2 linked regions of the Homo sapiens genome follow. The protein of the gene in region 2 interacts with the protein of the main gene of each other region in a pairwise test. Each region holds a gene or a part of one and is shown on either strand. Other genes may lie near its edges.

What was found.
Region 1: the proteins of FAAP20 (region 2) and NFKBID interact in binary tests that used the Homo sapiens proteins (3 or more experiments, as listed by UniProt).

The regions. Positions count from the first base shown.
Region 1 is NC_000019.10:35,893,945-35,897,594, reverse strand, and holds part of NFKBID (NF-kappa-B inhibitor delta), read left to right. Parts: intron 1-491; coding exon of another isoform or gene 492-536; coding exon 537-682; intron 683-763; coding exon 764-869; intron 870-1,056; coding exon 1,057-1,203; intron 1,204-1,325; coding exon 1,326-1,377; intron 1,378-1,466; coding exon 1,467-1,615; intron 1,616-3,650. UniProt on the Homo sapiens protein: Regulates the expression of IL-2, IL-6, and other cytokines through regulation on NF-kappa-B activity. Functions in the regulation of inflammatory responses.
Region 2 is NC_000001.11:2,189,038-2,191,912, reverse strand, and holds the end of FAAP20 (Fanconi anemia core complex-associated protein 20), read left to right. Parts: exon of another isoform or gene 1-2,115; intron 2,116-2,131; coding exon 2,132-2,204; 3' UTR 2,205-2,365; downstream 2,366-2,875. UniProt on the Homo sapiens protein: Component of the Fanconi anemia (FA) complex required to recruit the FA complex to DNA interstrand cross-links (ICLs) and promote ICLs repair.

The sequences.
Region 1 (3,650 bases), on a different chromosome or scaffold from region 2:
CTCCTGCAGTATTCTGAGATGTCTGGAGCTCAGTTACGATTCCCTTTTCCAGGCCGGGCGTGGTGGCTCACACCTGTAATCCCAGCACTTTGGGAGGCTGAGGCAGGCGGATCACTTGAGGTCAGGCGTTTGAGACCAGCTTGGCCAACATGGTGAAACCAAAAATAAAAAAATTAGCTGGGTGTAGTGGCGCACGCCTGTAATCCTAGCTACTCGGGAGGCTGAGGCAGGGGAATTGCTTGAACCCAGGAGGTAGAGATTGCAGTGAGTAGAGATTGCACTGCTGCACTCCAGCCTGGGTGACAGAGCAAGACTCTGTCACCGAAAAAAAAAAATACCCTTTTCCAGGTGGGCAAAACTGAGGCCTAAAGGTCCAAGGTCACTTGGCATAGATGGGATACCCAGGGGCTCTGCATGCAGATGTGTGTGTGGTGGCTTGGGATGGAGGAATTCTCAGCTGACTGGGTCTCCCCACCACCTGCACCCTCCAGGACCCCCCAGACACCCAGTTCTATGTAGGATCTTCTCTGCCACAGGCTGGACCCTGGAGAGTTTCTGCACCCCCTTCAGGACCCCCACAGTTCCCCGCTGTGGTCCCTGGACCATCGCTGGAGGTGGCCCGAGCTCACATGCTGGCTTTGGGGCCACAGCAGCTGCTGGCCCAGGATGAGGAGGGGGACACGTGAGTATAAGGGATAGGGTTGTCTGCAGACTCTTGGCTTGGTGGGGGCTGTTCTCACGGCTGTCCCCCACCTGTCCTCAGGCTCCTTCACCTGTTTGCGGCTCGGGGGCTGCGCTGGGCGGCATATGCTGCGGCTGAGGTGCTCCAGGTGTACCGGCGTCTTGACATTCGTGAGCATAAGGGCAAGGTGAGGCTTGGGGCCTGAACTCTCCTGGGTTCAGGGGAGGAAGGAGCCTGGGGCCTGGACCCCTGGATCCTAGAGAAGAGGGGAATGGGGGGTGAGCTCCTGGGGCTGAGGGGGGATGGGGCTGGGAGCCTGGTTTTCTGACGGGAGGGAACCAGGAGCCCAACCTGACTTCTCCTGTGGCCTGCAGACCCCTCTCCTGGTGGCGGCTGCTGCCAACCAGCCCCTGATTGTGGAGGATCTGTTGAACCTGGGAGCAGAGCCCAATGCCGCTGACCATCAGGGACGTTCGGTCTTGCACGTGGCCGCTACCTACGGGCTCCCAGGAGTTCTCTTGGTATGGCCAGCTGGCAGGCAGGGGTTTGTCTGGGGGGTAGACTGGTTGCCCAGATTTTGGCTTCCAGGGCCAGGAGGCCAGGGGATACCCTTACCCAGCAGTCTGCCTTCTCTTCCTCCCAGGCTGTGCTTAACTCTGGGGTCCAGGTTGACCTGGAAGCCAGAGACTTCGAGGGTAAGTTGGGTGTGGGCAGGGCTGGTGTGGTTGGTGTGGCTGGGCGAGGTGGGTGCAGATGCGGGTCCCTCACTGTCTCCATTCTGCAGGCCTCACCCCGCTCCACACGGCCATCCTGGCCCTTAACGTTGCTATGCGCCCTTCCGACCTCTGTCCCCGGGTGCTGAGCACACAGGCCCGAGACAGGCTGGATTGTGTCCACATGTTGCTGCAAATGGGTGCTAATCACACCAGCCAGGTGAGCGGGGATGTGGGCGGTCAGACCCTGGGAGATTGTGTGGAATGGGGCCACTTGGATGTCCGGGAGCTCCAGGCAAATGCTGACTTTGCCTCTTCCTTGCTGCGTGCCCTTGAACATGTTACTTCACTTCTCTGTGCCTTAGGGGTTTTTTGTTTGTTTCTTTGTTTGTTTTGAGATGGAGTTTTGCTCTTGTTGCCCTGGCTGGAGTGCAATGGTGTGATCTTGGCTCACCGCAACCTCTGCATCCCGGGTTCAAGTGATTCTCCTGCCTCAGCCTCCTGAGTAGCTGGGATTACAGGCATGAGTCACCACGCCTGGCTAATTTTTTTGTATTTTTAGTAGAGACAGGCTTTCTCCACATTGGTCTTGCTGGTCTCGAACTCCCGACCTCAGGTGATCCACCTGCCTTGGCCTCCCAAAGTGCTGTGATTACAGGCGTGAGCCACCGCGCCCAGCAGGGTTTTTTTGTTTGTTTGTTTTTTTGTTTTTGAGACAGGGTCTCACTCTGTCGCCCAGGCTAGAGTGCAGTGGTGCAATCTCATCTCATGGCAAACTCTGCCTCCCAGGTTCAAGTGATTCTCCTGTCTTAGCCTCCTGAGTAGCTGGGACTATAGGCGCACGCCACCATGCCTGGCTATTTTTTTTTTTTTTTTTTTGTATTTTAGTAGAAGTGGGCTTTCATTGTGTTGGCCAGGCTGGTCTCAAACTCCTGACCTCAAATGATCCTCCCACCTTGGCCTCCCAAAGTGCTGCGATTACAGGCGTGAGCCACTGTGCCTGGCCCCTAGTTGTTAACTGGGAATAATATTACTGACCTTAGGGTATGTTATCAAGCACTTACTATTCATTCATCAAGCACTGAGTTTCATAGATTAGCTTATTGAAACCTCACAAACACCCTTTGACATGTGTACTCTATTTTCTCTATTTTACTGAAAAGGAAACAGGCATGGGAAATCAAAAATCTTTTTTTTTTTCTTTTTGAGATGGAGTTTTGCTCTTGTTGCCCAGGCTGGAGTGCAATGGTGTGATCTCGGCTCACCACAACCTCCGCCTCCTGGGTTCAAGCGATTCTCCTGCCTCAGCCTCCCGAGTAACTGGGATTACAGGTTCCCACCACCACGTCCAGCTAATTTTGTATTTTTAGTAGAGACAGGGTTTCTCCATGTTGGTCAGGCTGGTCTCGAACTCCCGACCTCAGGTGATCTTCCTGCCTCGGCTTCCCAAAATGCTGGGATTGCAAGCGTGAGCCACTGCACCTGGCCTCAAAAATCTCTTTGAGACAGGGTCTCACTCTGTCACTCAGGCTGGAGTGCAGTGGCATGATCACAGCTTATTGCAGCCTTGACCTTGTGCACTTAAGTGATCCTCCCACCTCAGCCTCCCAAGTAGCTGTGATCACAGGCATGCACCACCATGCGTGGCAACTTTTTTGTAAGGTGGGGTCTAACTATGTTGGCCAGGTTGGTCTCAAACTCCTGAGCTCAAGCAATCCTTCCACCTCTGCCTCTGAAAGTGCTGGGATTACAGTTGTGAGCCACTGCACCCAGCCTGAAAAATCTTATAGCTTGTGACTGTCAGAGAGAGAATTAGAACCCAGGTAGTCTGACTTTAGAACCTAGCTTTTAATTATGTTCTGTTCCTTTCCTGTGACAGTAGCTCCTTCATAGGCTGGCTGAGAGAATTAAACATCCACAAAAAATGTTTATTTATTTATTGAGATGGAATCTCACTCTGTCACCCAGGCTGGAGTGCAGTGGCATGATCTCGGCTTACTGCAACCTCTGCCTCCCGGGTTCAAGCCATGCTCCTGCCTCAGCCTCCTGAGTAACTGGGACTACAGGCATGCACCACCACGCTTGGCTAATTTTTTTGTATTTTTAATGGAGACGGGGTTTCCCTATGTTGGCCAGGCTGTTCTCTCAAACTCCTGACCTCAGGTGAGCCGCCCGCCTTGGCCTCCCAAAGTGCTGGGATTACAGGCATAAGCCACTGCGCCCAGCCGAAAAATGTTTTTTTAGTTAAAGAATGT
Region 2 (2,875 bases):
CTTGTGGTCCTATTTGGACATTTTGTGCATTTTCAGACACCTGCGGGTCACGTGGGTGGATGGGAAGCTGGGCACCTGGTGAGGGGTGAGGATGTTGAGAGCCAGAGCTGCGTTTTGTCTCTGTTGATGTGGCGAGGCCCTGGGTTGGTCACTGGGATTTTTTTTTTTTTTTGAGACGGTGTCTCGCTCTGTCGCCCAGGCTGGAGTGCAGTGGCATGATCTCGGCTCACTGCAACATCTGCCTCCCGGGTTCAAGCGATTCTCCTGCCTCAGTCTCCTGAGTAGCTGGGATTACAGGCGTCACCACACCTGGCTAATTTTTGTATTTTTAGTAGAGACAGGGTTTCACCATGTTGGTCAGGCTGGTCTTGAACTGATCTCAGGTGATCCGCCCGTCTCGGCCTCCCAAAGTGCTGGGATTACAGGCGTGAGCCACCGCGCCCGGCCGGTCGTTGGGATTTTAACAGCCCTGAGGCCCCTCACGCTGCCAGGTGCCAGCCCACCCTGCAGCCCTGCTCCCCTGCCCACACGCAGAAGCCACCAGAGGCTTCTGGACTGAGCCCCCACTGTCCTGCAGCCGGGCTGGCCTGTCCACACCACAGGGCGTGCTCAGCTACTGAGCAGAAGCGTCACGGACAGGGCAGATCAGGCCAGGACAAAGCTCTTCCGCCACAGGCGGGGGTCTGAAGGCATCTCAGAGGGCCCCCAAACAAGGGACGCTGCCTGGAAACCCCGGGACAAGATGACCTCGGTTCAGATCTTAGCACCTTCTGGCAACCTTAGAGAAAGCTTCTGGAGGGAGGGGCTGGTTCCCAGGATGGGCAGAAGCCGGAAAGTCTCAGACTGAGTGACCCTCGGGGGCTTCAGAAGGCACTGGGTGGGCTCTGCCAGAGTGAGAAGGCAGCTGATGGCTGCTGGAGCCAGCCCCGGGAGTGGGGGTCCAGCTATGGTCTGGAGAGGGGGACTTGAGGGTTGCAGTGGCCACACAGACGGGGCACAGGAGCCAAAGGAAGGGACACAGCAAAGCCCAAGGGTAAAACGGCGCGCCGTGGACTGGTCTGAGGGCAGAGGCTGTAGGGGAGCGAGGGGCGGTGTGGCTGACAGGTGGACACAGGGACACGTGTCCTGTGGACTTGGCCGCTCAGTGGGGGTGTGTCCCCCAGCAGTGGCGTGTGAGGGATGGTCACTCTGATGGGACACTGACCACTTGGCCTCCAGCAAGATCTAGGCCCAAGTCTAGGCTGAAGCCGCCCACTCAGCCCCGGGACATCGTCCCCGGCAGCTCTGCTGAGCACGCCAGCTCCGGCACTCTCCGGGAGTCATGGCCGGAAGTCAACTGTCCTGGCTTCCAGGGCCACACCTTGGCCAGGCCTGGTGATGGTCATTTCCAGCCGCTCCAGTTGGGCTGATGGGGCCACATGAGGCCGGGGATAGAAGGTGGCTGCGCTCAGACACCCCTCCCGGCCCCACTGGATGCCCAGGGCGCTGACCTGCAGGACTCGGATGGGTTTTCTCCTGCCACCCCTGCCTGGCCGGCCACCATCCCAGCGCCAGCGCCCTCCTGAGAGGTGCAGGGGCCGCGTGGGGCCTCCCAGAGTGGCAGGTTGGCAGCCTGCACGCCGGTGACGGCGTCCTTCTCCGTGGTGAGGCTTGGTCCCTCCTCGCCAGAAACACCAATTCTCTGACGTGAGCTGCACATCCACTGCCCAGCCATGTTTACTCTTCTGCCTCCTGTAGACGCAGCCGCGGCGGCTCTCCCTGGCAGGCCACCCGCCGTCCTGCCTTTTCTCCGGGTCAGGCCGCCTGTCTGCCGGGCTCCACGATGAGCGCGTTCTCAAGCTGAGCAGGCGCCAGAATCCCATAGAGAGGCTTGTTGAGACACAGCTTCCCCACCCCCAGCTCGGACGCAGGGGCCTGGCGTGGCCTCCTCACGGGCACGGTGTGGAAACACCACTGGCGGTTACCGTGGTCTGCCGGGTGCATGAGCCCCTGGGGTGGCCCCGTCCCTTGTTTCTGACCAGCCGGATCCTCTCCAGCGGCAGGAGCAGAGAGGGCCCGGAGGTCCAGACGGTGCTCTCTGCGGCCAGCATGCCGCGGAGGTGGCCGAGTGAGTGTGGCCCCTCCCTTGCAGGCTGACCCAGCTGGATGTTGACAGCCACCTGGCCCAGTGCTTGGCCGAAAGCACAGAAGACGTGACGTGGTGAGCGCCATCCAAGAGCCCTGCGCAGAGTGCGGCGCCCGGACACGCTCTCCCCCGCCAGCAGCCCCGCCTCTCGGCTCCCCCGCCAGCAGCCCCGCCTCTCGGCTCCCCCGCATGCGCATTAAAGCAGGGCGGGCTCCTGTCTGTCTCTGTGTTGTGATGAAACGTCTGCCGCTTTTCTTTCTGACGTTTGGTTTAGGGCAGATTCACTGCAGTGCAATCAGAACCAGACACAGCCCCAGGCGGGGAAGCTGACCCCTTTCCCCTGGCGCCCCCACTGTGGACAGCGGACGGGCTGAGGGTAGCTCGTTTTCCTAACTTTGTGGACAGGCGTGGTTAGCTCATGTGCAGTCACGGTTTTTTTTTTGTTTTTTTTTTTTTGAGACAGGGTCTCGCTCTGTCGCCCAGGCTGGAGTGCAGTGGTGCAATCACGGCTCATTGCAGCCTCAGACTCCTGGGCTTGATGATCCTCCCACCTCAGCCTCCTGAATAGCTGGGACTACAGGCGCGCGTCACCACACCCAGCGACTTTTAGTATTTTTTGTACAGATGGAGGGGTCTTGCCATGTTGCCCAGGCTGGTCTCGAACTCCTAGGCCCAAGCGATCCTCCCGCCTTGGCTTCCTGAAGTGCTGGGATTACAGGCGTGAGCCAGCAGCCCCAGCCTCTGGTGGCG